2 linked regions of the Homo sapiens genome follow. The protein of the gene in region 1 interacts with the protein of each later gene in a biochemical or structural test. Each region holds a gene or a part of one and is shown in the gene's direction. Other genes may lie near its edges.

The links.
Region 2: the proteins of MTA3 (region 1) and USP43 form a complex in vitro, tested with the Homo sapiens proteins (one study listed by BioGRID).

What each region holds. Positions count from the first base shown.
Region 1 is NC_000002.12:42,704,630-42,711,648, forward strand, and holds part of MTA3 (metastasis-associated protein MTA3), read left to right. Parts: intron 1-3,273; coding exon 3,274-3,425; intron 3,426-4,244; coding exon 4,245-4,467; coding exon of another isoform or gene 4,468-4,490; exon of another isoform or gene 4,491-4,915; intron 4,916-7,019. UniProt on the Homo sapiens protein: Acts as a component of the histone deacetylase NuRD complex which participates in the remodeling of chromatin.
Region 2 is NC_000017.11:9,640,788-9,648,535, forward strand, and holds the start of USP43 (ubiquitin carboxyl-terminal hydrolase 43), read left to right. Parts: upstream 1-4,767; 5' UTR 4,768-4,845; coding exon 4,846-5,349; exon of another isoform or gene 5,350-5,930; intron 5,931-6,139; exon of another isoform or gene 6,140-6,270; intron 6,271-6,716; exon of another isoform or gene 6,717-7,748. Other genes in the region: CFAP52 (cilia- and flagella-associated protein 52), read left to right, coding at 4,459-4,767. UniProt on the Homo sapiens protein: May recognize and hydrolyze the peptide bond at the C-terminal Gly of ubiquitin. Involved in the processing of poly-ubiquitin precursors as well as that of ubiquitinated proteins.

The sequences.
Region 1 (7,019 bases):
TCCCATGATGCATACCAAATTCCCCTTTGGAGTTTCTCAGTATACTTTGACAAATTAAAGCTCCAAGTAATTCTGTAGGAAAGGCCTCTGTGTGGATAAGCTGCTGTATATAATCCTCAGACCATGTTCCCTCAGTGCACCAGTTTGGGAAATGCTCTTCTATGATACTTGCTTTTGGCCTCAGGATCCCACTGTATTTATCTATGGTGGCAGTATTTTATTTGCCCAGGGTGTTAAATGGGGTCGGTGAAGTGAACCGTTAGGTAGTTGATAGACTTTGTGTGTTTATTTTAAATCTCAAGCAAGGATACAATATCTTAATGGGGCATTGGTGATATTATCATCTATGTTTCCTTCCAGTTAAGGTAGCCTGGGATGGGAGAGGGAAGGAAACGAATGTTTATTGAAAACCTACTTGGTGCCCCATTTTGGGTTCTTAGTAGCTCTTTGAGAGTACATGTAGCCTACTGCCTTCAGGAAGGATATAGGAATGAGGGACGGCTGTGAGTACGATTACGTCGATTGATCCCAAGGAAGGTGTGAGCCAAGTTGCTGAATTTGTAGAAATGGTACATGGGGATGTGTTTAACCATTTTTTTGCAGCATGGGAGCACAAAGGGAAACAATTTGTGGAAAATTAAGATTTTTTAGGTCAGGCTTTTACATGGATAGCATCATAAATACCTTGAATTGGGAATTCTTGGATTTTGTAGTTCATGTATATTCAAATGAAAATGAAAAGAATCCTGCAGACAAGTGGTAGTGGCTTAACCTGTCTTGATTTTAACTTGCAGGCAGGGTGCTGTGGCTCATGCCTGTAATCCCAGCACTTTGGGAGGCTGAGGCGGGTGAATCACCTGAGGTCAGGAGTTCGAGACCAGCCTGGCCAACATGGTGAAACCCCGTCTCTACTAAAAATACCAAAAATTAGCCAGGCATGGTGGCATGCACCTGTAATCCCAGCTACTCAGGAGGCTGAGGCAGGAGAATAGCTTGAACCCAGGAGGCAGAGGTTGCAGTGAGCTGAGATTGCACCATTGCACTCCAACCTGGGTGACAGAGTGAAACATCGTCTCCCCCCCGCCCCCAAAAAAAAAATTAACTTGCAAACCCCTTTCACACTCACGTATATCCCCTTAAATGATTATTCTGTTATTTTTATGTGTGCATGATGAATAAGCTATTTTTATTTTATAATATTTACTTTAGACTCATGTATTACTAATCTCCATGATAAAATGTTATCTTAATATAAGATTTATCCTTACAGAGAGATAGAACTTGATGTTTTCTATTTATTAAATGATACCTACTTTCCAATTGAATTTGAGTTATTTAAGGAGAAAGGCATTTATTGACAATTATTAAAATGATTTGCATGATTAGTTTACGTAAAATGTATGTTTTAAGTGAAATTTTATATTTAGAATTCAAAATAGATTCATAGCTTAATGTTTAAGATTTTGAAGGGGAACATCACATCTGGGGACTGCTGTGGGGTGGGGGGAGCAGGGAGGGATAGCTTTAGGAGATATACCTAATGCTAAATGACGAGTTAATGGGTGCAGCACCCCAGCATGGCACATGTATACATATGTAACTAACCTGCACATTGTGCACATGTACCCTAAAACTTAAGGTATAATAATAATAAAATAAAAAATTTAAAAAATGACTTATTAGTTCTAAATTATAGGAGGAAAGGCTTTTAGGCTTTCATTTGTATAAAATAGTTATTTGTATAAATGAAAGCCTAAAATAGGCCTAAAATATTTACACAAATAAAAGCCTAAAATAATAATCCTCCAAAAATAATACATGATGGGTGTACAGTGTTATTCCCGATAAACATGAATATAATGGTCTCTGTATTTTCTCTTTTTCACATTGGTTTGTGAAGTGTTAGTTGATATCTTCATGTGCTGTTTGAACATTTGAAGGTAACTTACAGGTCAGAGAAATAATATTTTAAGGCAAACTTACAGAATTACAATTTTTTATGCACCCAATTAACTTATGTCTCAACCTCAATGTTTTCTCTTAAACTTCAGATCTATCACACATGTATTTTAAATGTCACATGTCAGTAATTTAAACTACAAAACAAAAACTAACACAAGCTTACAGTGTTCAGCTAGCTGTTAAATCATCTGAGTTTTAGGCCTCAAGCATGCTGTGATGTCAGCTGCCCATGCTCACTTCATATGGATTTAGAGTCTTGAAAGGGATTCTGTCTGTAAATGGAGATTTTAAAATAAGGATTTTACTTATTGATTAAAATAAAGGAGTGCAAAACAGATACCTGTTTGTTTCTTCTCTCCTCCCCTACTCCCTCCCTCTTCCCCTCCCCAGCCCCCTCCTCCTCCCCGCTTCCCTCTGTAACCCAGGCTGGAATGCAGTGGTGCAATCACAGTGGCCTCAACCTCCCAGGCTCAAGCAGTCCTGCTGCCTCAGTCTCTGTAGTCGCTGGGACTACAGGGGTTCACCACCACACCTGGCTGACAGATACCTGTTTTTATTAGATTCCTGACTTTATCAATGAGACCTCCCTGAGTACCTTAAATAATCCTTGGAGTGGTGTCTGAACCCTGGGTTTGGAAACGTGGATTTAGATTTTTTTTTTTTTTCTTTTGAGATGGAGCCTCACTCTGTCGCCCAGGCTGGAGTGCAGTGGCGTGATCTCAGCTCACTGTAACCTCTGCCTCCCACATTCAAGCAATTCTACTGCCTCAGCCTACCGAGTAGCTAGGACTACAGGTGCGTGCCACCATGCCTGGCTAATTTTTTTTGTGTGTTTTCAGTAGAGACGGGGTTTCACCGTGTTAGCCAGGATGGTCTTGATCTCCTGACCTCATGGTCCGCCTGCCTCAACCTCCCAAAGTGCTGGGATTACAGGCGTGAGCCACCATGTCCGGCCCCAGATTTTTTAAATACTACCATCTTTTTGAGAACCTATTTCCAGAAACATACACAATAGAGTATTTTTAATCAACAAAACAAAAACTCCCTCAGCAGCACAATGCATAATACAGGATGCTTCACTGAATAGCTTTAACAGGGCCACAAGCACTTTATATAATAATGGAAATAAGTTGGTTTAATGAATTCTGAGTATTAAAAAAACAAATATACTATTATGTTTGGCTTGTAAGCTGGGAACAATAACATTGTAAACTAAGCATGACAAGTATTTTTAAAATGTTTGATTATTTTGTGTTGATGTTACAAATTAAATAGCATTTTTCGTTTTTTCTTATTTTTCTTCTGCTTTAGCTACACAGTCTCACCAGTGGTATTCTTGGGGCCCACCTAATATGCAGTGTAGATTATGTGCAATTTGTTGGCTTTATTGGAAAAAATATGGAGGCTTGAAAATGCCCACCCAGTCAGAAGAAGAGAAGTTATCTCCTAGCCCAACTACAGAGGTACAGTAGTCTTTTTAGTGTTGAAAAATGGCATGTTTTTAAATGGGTTGATTATTCCTTGGAAACAGAAGTACAGTATAGGATAATTAAAAAATGAAGAAAGCTACCTTTATAGCTAAACGTAGCACTACAATATTCAGGGTAGGTGTGGAGAGAAGCAGAGAGAAATTAAATTTTATCAGGTATTCAGAATAATGGTCTCAGACAAAAAAACAATGAGTGTGGGAGATGTTAGCATAAGTAGAGAGCTTACAAATTAAATGTTTAATTGCTTTTGAAAACAGTTCGTAACCTTTACATTCTGTTGAAGGCGTGTCTTACTACATAAAGTCATAAATGCAAATTAAGCATTTTTTCTCCCCGTGGCTGTTTTGGAGGGACAAGAAGTATGGACTTAATCTTGAGGTGAACAACAGTTTAAATGTGATTTTGGTAAAATCCTCATAGGCTGAAGATGCCAAACGCCTGTGTTTACCAGTGGGCGACTACCCTTTTTCAGTGCTGACGGGCTTTCAGGACTCCTTAATTTAAAAAAAAGTGTAGTTAACCCCCTTGGCAGTTTCATACCACTTACTGTGAATGTGATTTTGGATTCCTGTATAGCAGTACAGTATTCTCCACAGTTCCCTTCTCTACTCCCCACCTCTTTCCCAAAAGTGCACACTTTAATTCTCTCTTTTAGAGGTAGTGCACCAAGTGACGTTATAGATGCTTCATGAAAGATTTAAAAGTTGCACTTTTCTTTTGAGCATGATGCAAACAGTAACGTGTTTGGGCAAGTTCACTTCCTTGAGTGTTTGTTGTTTTCTGATTTTGCAGGACCCTCGTGTTAGAAGTCACGTGTCCCGCCAGGCCATGCAGGGAATGCCAGTCCGAAACACTGGGAGTCCAAAGTCTGCAGTGAAGACCCGCCAAGCTTTCTTCCTTCATACTACATATTTCACAAAATTTGCTCGTCAGGTCTGCAAAAATACCCTCCGGCTGCGGCAGGCAGCAAGACGGCCGTTTGTTGCTATTAATTATGCTGCCATTAGGGCAGAATGTAAGATGCTTTTAAATTCTTAACCTTATATGTTGTGCTTCTGACCATTTTCTCTTTTCCTCTCTTTCCTTTTTTTTTTGTTTGTTTGTTTGCAATAAACATAAGTTCTTGTGTACAGCCTTTTATTTGGTTTATTTTTTAACATTGTTTTTGTGTGCTGCCATTTGTATCATGCCAACCTGGAAAAAAAAAATCAAAACATTGAAACTTCTGTACTCTTTACCAGAGAGTAGTGCTTAGCAAAAGATTGGTGGGAGGTGATCCTATTCCATGGGGTTTTGTGATGGAATTGCCTGCAGAGCCCTTATTGAAGCACTTTTACCTTTTAGGTAGTGCCACAATGTAACCCCTAAGGATGCTGTTATAATGAGACTCCATAATCGAGACAGTACAGTCCAGTCTTACATGGATTCATTAGGTTTAAATAAAATTTGCCAATTTACACTAATTAGAGACTGTATGTCTTTGTAAACCTCTCGTTTTTCTCATGAACCTTTTACAATTGTCATACAACATTATGGAAATTCACCCTTGATTCATAACAAATACTATATTTATTAGAAGGTCTAGCAAATTACAAGTAAATTTTAAACTCATTTTTGGGTGAGTTTTCTGAAATTACACATTGCATTTTCATAAGCTAGCATCTAAACATATGGTTGAGCAGCCTGTTTGTCCAGTTTGGTTTCCATTTCATGATCATGTATCATATATATCACCACATAACATTTACATGACTTACTACTCTTATTTTCAACACATTTGGTCTTGCTTATCTTTTTTATTTTTATTTTTGTTAGCACAGAGATCATATGTGTCCATGAATTGTGGATCGTTTTGTCATTACCATGTCTCTGACAATATGTGTATAATTAATATGTTAGCTCTGGAGTCACATTCCAGGCTAGCATGTTAGAGCCGTGCAGCTTTTGTTCCTTAAGGGGTGACAAAACTTGCTGTCTGGCCTAACAGATAGGAAATCCTAAAGCCATTCTAAGAAATCTCTTACTATGAAATGTTCCCCTTTGATTTAAAGAGGATATCAATAAAAGGAATGATGACTGAAAAAAACATTTTTTGTTCCTAAAGATAATTTTTAGCAGAATAGTTGAAAGGCTTTAAAACTTAAGTAGCAGCTCTATAAGAAGAAAAATGCTTTGTAAAGGGAGTTGAGGGCTGGGCGCGGTGGCTCATGCTTGTAATCCCAGTACTTTGGGAGGCCGAGGTGGGTGGATCACCTGAGGTCAGGAGTTCGAGACCAGCCTGGTCAACATGGTGAAACTGTCTCTACTAAATATACAAAAATTAGCCAGGCGTGGTGGCAGGCGCCTGTAATCCCAGCTACTCAGGAGGCCAAGGCAGGAGAATTGCTTTAAACCGGGAGGCAGAGGTTGCAGTGAGCTGAGATTGCGCCATTGCGCTCCAGCCTGGGCAATGAGCGAAACTTCATCTCAAAAAAAAAAAAAAAAAAAAAAAAAGAAAGTGGTAGCAATGTCAGAGTCCCACAGAAGGGGGATTACTATATTAGATTCATGTATATTTGAGAGTTTAGGCTTATATTTAGGTTTTGTGCTAGCATTTGAGACCTCATGGACTTACGTTACCACTTTCCCATTTTGGGAATTAGAAATATTTATAGTCTAAATTGTTCAGCTCATTTAAAACACATTTTCATGTAATTTTTTAAATAAAATGGTGAAGACCAGTCACGGTGGCTTACGCCTGTAATCCTAGCACTTTGGGAGGCCGAAGTGGGCAGATCACCTGAGGTCAGGAGTTAGAGACTAGCCTGGCCAACATGGTGAAGCCTCATCTCTACTAAAAATTCAAAAATTAGCCAGGCATGGTGGCACACGCCTGTAATCCCAGCTGCTTGGAAGGCTGAGGCAAGAGAATCACTTGAACCTGGGAGGCAGAGGTTGCAGTGAGCTGAGATCATGCCACCGCACTCCAGCCTGGGCAACACAGACTCCGCATTAAAAAATAAATAAATAAATAAAAATTAAAAAGTAAAACATTTAAGAATGAAAATGAATGAGACTTTTCCATTAAGATTGGTGGGGATCCAGTATCATCTTTGTCCTAGGACTAGAAGAGAAACCATCAGCAACTCAGTTGGCTGCTGAGGAAACTCTGTTTCCCCAGGGCTTGTGTGTTAATTTTCAGTTAATTTGCACATTATCTTTGTTTTGATTATTCTTCAATGAAGTATATTTTTCTTTTATCTCGTTCTAATTTTTTTCTCAATTGACGGGCCATGCTGCTAAAAGGGATCATAATTAAGTTACCTGTATTTTATTTCTATAAGCATATAGATTATAGTAATCATAAAAGAGCAGTCGTCTATCTGGATGAAATTCAGAGAGCATGTATTATTTTGTTTTGTATTTAGCTTCACTGGTCATTGAGTTGTACATAATCAGATTCTTAAATAATTTTACCTTGAGATTTAAAATGACAGTGTTTCAGCAGCCGTCTACTCTTTTTTATTTTTCAGACAAGCAATGAACTTTTCCTAACATCTAATTGATTATGCTATCATCTCTTCTGTT
Region 2 (7,748 bases), on another chromosome or scaffold:
TGTGTGCCACCACATCCAGCTAATTTTTGTATTTTTAGTACAGACAGGGTTTCACCATATTGCCCAGGCTGGTCTCGCATTCCTGACCTCAAGCAACGGGCCCAACTCGGCTTCCCAAAGTGCTGGGATTATAGGTGTGAGCCGCTGCACCCAGCTGGCCGTATCGCATTTTCTTTATGCAGTCTATCATTGATGGGCATTTAGGTTGATTCCCTGTCTTTGCTATCATAAACAGAAGCATTCTTTCCTAAGAAGGAAATTTAAATCTTGAATAGATTGTGCATTCACAAAGTTTAAGGTACAAAGGCAGTATATTCAGGAAAAAAATCACCCTCCTTTAGGCACCTGTCTCTCCATCCCTAAGGTAGTTCTGCTCCCCAACAGGGAACCAAGGTTACCAGTTCCTCTTTAAACTCTACCCTGTGGAATATTTCAGTGCTTTGGAGCAGAAGGGAAAGTTGGGAATAAGGGTGGTGTGAGGAAGAGGGAGGGCGCAGTCCCAGTGGGAGGGTGCCTGTACAGCCCAGTCTCTAGAACTCTGGGGAGTGGGGAGTGCTCATCCCCCAGTGAGAAGGAAGAAAATGCTTTTCCTCCCTCCAGGCCTGAAGCTTAGCTGTGGATGCAGAGGCTGTTCTTTCTTTTACAGCTTGCTTCAGGCTGAATCTTCTTAGTCTTATCAAAAGCCCTTTCTGTCTTAATCCAGGTTTATCAGCACATCAACATGTCTTTAAATAGAATGCAAATTTAAAACCAATACTAAAAATATTAAAATGGTTTTGCCACCCCCTGCTGTAGCCTATTTATAATTTCAGCCAGTATCATCCCGTGGTGTATTTTTGCTCCCTTCTATATAAAGTAGAGCCATCTTTTGTTAGCATGTGCATGGATGACTCTCCTGAGCTGAGTCCTGCTTAATGCTTCTTTCCTGAATTCCAGATTGCTTACTGGGAAGTATTTGATGGGACAGTAATCAGAGAATTGGAAGGTTCCCTGTCTGGGTCGATAAATGGCATGGATATCACACAGGAAGGGGTGCACTTTGTCACAGGTTAGTCCTGGGATAGGAAAAAGCCAAGCCTGGCTTATTTAGACGAGGACATGGAAGGAACTCCCAGGCTAGAGGCAATTGGAAAAGACAACAAAAGGGTCTCAAGGCAACTTGGTTAGAATCAGATTCCAACCAATACTGCAGCCAATGTGGCTGAGAAAGAAAAATCCAGAAGTCACATTTCAATGAGAGGAAACATTTGCACAAGAGCCTTAAGAGCACAAATAAAAGCCAAGACTTAGATTGCTAGGCTTGCTATTTTTGGTGGGCATTGATAATAGAAATGGGGCCTTTAAATGGCCTGGGCTGTCCAGCATACTTCTAAAGTCTTAAAAGCCAGTCTTTTAATTCCACTTTATTATTGCATGATGCGATGCCCTTCCCACCAAAACAAATGAATTAACCAATATTTCAAAGGGGCATTTACCACACAACATGCCGATTGGAACATCATTATCATTTCCTGCCAAGCTCTTTGATTCATCAGGATATTAACAAATAAATGCGGCCAGGCGTGGTGGCTCATGCCTGTAATCCTAGCACTTTGGGAGGCCAAGGCAGGTGGATCACCTGGGGTCAGGAGTTTGAGACCAGCCTGGCCAACATGGTGAAACCCTGTGTCTACTAAAAACACAAAAATTAGCCGGGCGTGGTGGTGCACGCCTATAATCCCAGCTACTTGGGAGGCTGAGACAGGAGAATTGCTTGAGCCTGGGAGGCGGAGGCTGCAGTGAGCTGAGATCATGCCACTCCACTCCAGCCTGAGTGACAGACAGTCCGTCTCAATAAATAAATAAGTAAAAAATAAATAAATGCATGAAATGAATTAAGTTTCACAAGTACATTGACTACAAAGCAGGTATCAAACTAGACACAGTGTGATCCCAATCATATATATGATGTATATGTATACCAGTATACTTATAGAGAAAAGACTGGAAGGAACTAAGCCAAGATATTACTAGTGGTTATTTCTGGGTAGTGGGATGAAATGTGATTTTACCTCTTTGTATTTCCCCCTCCTCTTCAAATTTACTGCAACAGATAGATTTTTATAATCAAGTAAAAGTGTTATTATAAAGACAGATACATGGGGACCATGTTGAAAATGATCCAGTTATTTGAAATCAGGGCTGTTTCTCTCTCTCCTATTGCAGCAATGCCATATACGTGTTTATCTTTTTCAGGTGGAAATGACCATCTGGTCAAAGTTTGGGATTATAATGAGGGTGAAGTGACTCACGTTGGGGTGGGACACAGTGGCAACATCACACGCATCCGCATAAGTCCAGGAAATCAATATATTGTTAGTGTAAGTGCCGATGGAGCCATTTTGCGATGGAAGTACCCATATACCTCCTGAAGCTGATGAGATGTCTCTGAGCCTTGGCGTTGCACGCAGTCCTGTTGAAGACTGAGTTTAGATAACTCCAACACTAGTCTTCATTTCTCACAGCTCTGTTTTTGTTCTTGAGTCAATTTTTCTCTTTTTCTTTATAGAATGCATTTTATATTCTTAAATTGCATATTAAAATTGAAGTATGTTCAAGAATAATTTGTGCAGACTCTAATTAGAACTTTTAACATTTTGAATAAATTCTTAGTTGTTGGTTTTCTGTTATAATTTGTTTTCTGCAACTCTGCAAAACCCACAGACCTTCCTCATGATCTGTGCACAGACAGCATTGCTATTATCCTCTAAAAATAAGGTGAGGTGAATTTCCTTCTTAATTGCCATTTCATTGGTCAAGCTATATGGGACTAGACTCAGATTTAAATCCAGATCTTGGGCAGGCTTCTTAAAAATTCTCTGAGCCACAATTTTCTCTTTTGTCAAGCAAGAGTAAGTTCCTGCTCAAAAGGTTATTGTGAGAATTAAGTGACTAATGTACTAAAGCATCGGCAGAATTCCTGACAGGGTAGAGAGAAATATGCATGCTTTCTCAAAGAAAATGTGTGGTGTTGGGGATCTCAGGACAATTACCAAAGAAAGATGAAATTACAGAGATGCTTTATTGGAGTTGGCCATTACATCTTTCTTCTGTGCTTTCCACCAGAAGGGTGATGAAATGGACCTTGTGTCCTTGTGTATTAATCACCCAGCCGGGTATCTTTTTCCAGAGAGGGGTAAATAATGGCATTTTCCAGAACGCAAGTCTCCGATTCACAGTACCGTCTGATGTTTTAAGCATGTTATTTATCCTTTAAGTAAGGCTGCTTTTTTGCATGAGGTAACTGCTGTAACCCGGTTTGAAAGATCAAGTTTTTTGTTTGTTTGTTTGTTTTTTGAGACGGAATTTAGCTCTTGTCGCAATTTAGCTCTTGTCGCCCGGCTGGAGTGCAATGGCGCGATCTCGGCTCACTGAATCAAGCGATTCTCCTGCCTCAGCCTCCTGAGTAGCTAGGATTACAGGCATGCGCCACCACGCCTGGCTAATTTTGTATTTTTAGTCGAGACGGGGTTTCACCATGTTGGCCAGGCTGGTCTTGAACTCCTGACCTCAGGTGATCCGCCCGTCTCGGCCTCCCAAGGTGCTGGGATTACAGGCGTGAGCCACCGCGCCCGGCCAGGATCAAGAATATTTAATAAATGATGATCACTTATTAAACAACAAGTAACATTTCAGAGCGTTAGAATACTGCATCTCACATGGTGCTGATCTCTTCCTGAGCTAGAAATTGACGAGAAAGTCATTTTGCAAGACCTTGCCTGATTAATTATAAACCTGACAGTTGCATGGGATAAAGTGAGGGGTGGGGGAGGGGCCCAGGGTTACCCAGGGAATCAAGGGCGGGGCAAGGCCAAACTAATTCTGATTGGGCAATCATTCAACAAGGATCGTGCGTTAAGGAGTGAACCAGAAACCGCGTAGGGGGCGCGCCTGAGAGCCTGAAAACTTCCTGGTTAGCAAATACTGAGGCTGGAAAGGGCCTGAACTTGGCAGTCCATAGATCCAGGTCGAGTTCCGGTTTCCCTGCTTACGGATCGGGCGGCCTCCCTACGTTGCGATAACCTCTCTGAGCCCCCTTCCTTGCCGATTAAAGCAAGGGTGATCAAGTCTTGCAAGTTTTTGGAAAATGATTCTAACCCAATCTGTGGTGTAAAAAAGCAAACCACAACCACTCGGGGGCTTTTTTCACAGGGCAACACGTGGCTCCCAGTTCAGGTCCCGGGTTGGCGGGTGCAGGCACAGACTCTGCCTCCCCCCAAGGGGCAGACGGTCTGGAAGGAGGTGGCGACACCTGTCCGCACACACCTGAGCCTGCGGAGGAACCAGCGGTGCACAAAAGCGCTCCCCACCCCCACACAGCGCCCAGCGCGCGCCTCTCACCACGCCCGAGGCTGTGCTCTGGAGATGCCTGCCTTGCCCTTTTCTTCCTGCAGTAGCCAGGCCTTTACCATTTACTAGGCGCTTTCAGAATGTTCATTTCTCCGTAATTTCCACTGCTTGAAGGCTGCTCGAGGAACAGGAGCAGCGGCGAAACCCAGGTCTGTCGGTTTACGAGGTAAGGAAGGGTGGGGAATCCGACCACGAAGACTCCCAGTCAGCGCAGCGGGGGCGGCACCAGGCAGGGGTAGGGGTGGCCCGGCGCTGCCCTGGAGGGGGCTGGTCGTGCCGCCGGATTCCCGCGCGGGGCGGGGCTGCCCCGCCCTTGGCTCCGCCTCCGCCCCGTCCCCGCACACCTGGCCCGCAGGTAGCCGGCACCAGGAGCCTTAGAGAAGCTGTAGGGCCTGCTGGCCGCTCGTCCGCCTCGCGCCCGGGGGCTCCGCGCCTGGAGCTGCGCCGGCGGCAGCCATGGACCTGGGCCCCGGGGACGCGGCAGGAGGGGGACCGCTCGCGCCCCGGCCCCGCCGCCGCCGCTCCCTGCGCCGCCTGTTCAGCCGCTTCCTGCTGGCGCTGGGCAGCCGCTCACGCCCCGGGGACTCACCGCCCCGGCCCCAGCCGGGACACTGTGATGGCGACGGTGAGGGGGGCTTCGCCTGCGCCCCGGGCCCAGTTCCAGCGGCCCCCGGGAGCCCCGGGGAGGAACGCCCGCCCGGACCCCAGCCCCAGCTCCAGCTCCCCGCCGGCGATGGGGCGCGGCCGCCGGGCGCTCAGGGCTTGAAGAACCACGGCAACACCTGTTTCATGAACGCGGTGGTGCAGTGTCTCAGCAACACCGACCTGCTGGCCGAGTTCCTGGCGCTGGGGCGCTACCGGGCGGCTCCGGGCCGCGCCGAGGTCACCGAGCAGCTGGCGGCGCTGGTGCGCGCGCTCTGGACTCGCGAATACACGCCCCAACTTTCCGCGGAGTTCAAGGTAGGCAGCGCTGCGCCGCCGACCGCCCTGTCCCCCTGGTTTCGCCTCTTGAAAAGTGTGTGCACGATCAGGAAAGGGTTTTCTTGGGGCCTTCTTTAAATGCCGTTGACCAGTTCAGCCCCGGATTACCGGCTTTGTTTTGAGTCGATGTGTTACGCTGTCGCTTGCTTATGTTTTCTTTGTAAATTAATTCTCCTAGGTATTTTGAGAGGGAGTGGGGTGAGCTGGCAGATTGAAGGGTAATCAGCGTTTTTGGATTCAACAAGCATTTGTTGAAGTATTGAAGGCTTGTGGGCCAGACAGTGTTCTAATGCCAGCTCTAGAGCTTCCAGTCTGGAATGATGTGGGGTAGGGAATGGGATGTTGAAGGCCAAGGCCTCAGAGGAAGGAGGTGATGCTTGCGTTGAGATCTGAATGATGAGAAGGATGCAGTCAGGGCAAGCTGTAGGACTAATCCAGGCAGGAGGAACAGCAAGTACAATTGCCATAGACCCGAAGGAGCTGAGTGCTGGAGACAGGGAAAGAAAAGCAGTGGCGTTGGAGCTTAGGAGGCAGATGAGTTTCGCCAGATCACGTAAGACCTAGGAGGCAACGGTAAAGAGTTTGGATTTTATTCTAAGCCCAGTGGAATCTGACAACCTACAGGCCAGGTACCGTGCTGAGTGCCCAGCAAAGGCAGTGAGCGTGCTATTTTGGAGATAGCATCCTTTTGTTTAAGGCGCATTCAATCCCCTACAATGTATGAGCACGGGCTTGCATTTTATTGTCTGCAAGATCACGGTCTACTTACTCGGGTTGCTGCCGGGTCGTGAGGCTTTGTAAATTGTTTGTATCACTTCACCCGGGATTAAAACGGGGTGTTTGTTTGGGGTCCCAGTTGGATTAAAGCGTTCCTGATAATTGATGCACATGGCTTGCTTCCTGCAAAAAAAAAAAAAAAAAAAAGAAAAAAAAGAAAAAAAAAGAAGAAGAAACCCGCAGCTCTGGGCAGAGAACTGAAGCTCCCTACAGACTAGTGATTGTTGTTCTTGGGGGAGGGGGAAACCTGTCAGTGTTCATTCCACAAGCATCACCGCTCTTGAGTTTCAGCCCGAGAAAGCAGTGTTTGCCATGTGACCCATGAGATGCCAACCCCCACCTTCCTCCCTCCTGCCTCCATTAGTGAAGCACTGTTCTGCAGCAGCCAGTGGGTCAAATGGTTGTCACTAAATGTCTCTTTTTGGTGACATTTGCTTTTTAAGAAAGAGGCAGTATAGTATAGTGGTTAAGAGCAAGGTCTCTGGAGTTTTGTGACCTTGAGCAAGTTACCAGATCTCTCTGTGCCGCAACTTTCTTCATCTTTAATATAGAACCATAATGGTACTTACCTCGTTATACGGTTGTTGTATTAAATGAGTTCTATGTAGAACACAGTGCCAGCCCCACAGGAAATGTTCATTATTCTATCACGACACCTTCTCACCTGCAGAAACCTAGAGCAGGGAGGGAGGTAATCTTTATGTACATTTTCTCTTGCTAGATGCATTTCCATCCAGTTACCACAGCAATGGGAGAGGGCTGCAGTAGTTTGAAAACACTTCGAAATTGGCCGAGCGCGGTGGCTCACGCCTGTAATCCCAGCACTTTGGGAGGCCGAGGCGGGTGGATCACGAGGTCAGGAGAGCGAGACCATCCTGGCTAACACGGTGAAACCCCGTCTTTACTAAAAATCCAAAAAAAAAAAAAAAAAAAAAAATTAGCCGGACGTGGTGGCGGGCGCCTGTAGTCCCAGCTACTGGGGAGGCTGGGGCAGGAGAATGGCGTGAACCTGGGAGGCGGAGCTTGCAGTGAGCCGAGATTGCGCCACTGCACTCCAGCCTGGGCAACAGAGCGAGACTCCGTCTCAAAAAAGCAAAGCAAAACAAAACAAAAAACTCCGAAATTAGTAATCACCCTCAATGACTCACCAGAATTCCCTATCTCTCTCCCGCTGTCAAATCCCCAGGGCCTGGGAGCTCCCAGTAAGCCTCAGGGAATTGAAGGATAATCAAGTTTGTAATATGTTAATGAGGGAGATACAATCTGGAATTTCCTGGGATTTTTGGGTAGTCAGCTTTGGAGGGAGGAGTGGAGGATCCCAGAATCCAGGCTTTAAATATTATGGATTGAAATCTAGGTGAGCTCTTCTTATTTTACAGATGGGGAAACATTCGTTCAACAAATATTTATTGAATGTCCAGAGAGTAGACTAGGAATGCATGGAATGCATGATGAGTGATGAGTACAAACCCAGATTCTGGGGCTGCTCTCCAGGAGCTTATGGTCTAGAGGTAGAAATGGATGTTAATGAAATAATCACACAGGCACATGATTGGAACAGAAACATGTTAGAAAGGACAAATACAAGGTGCTATGACAGT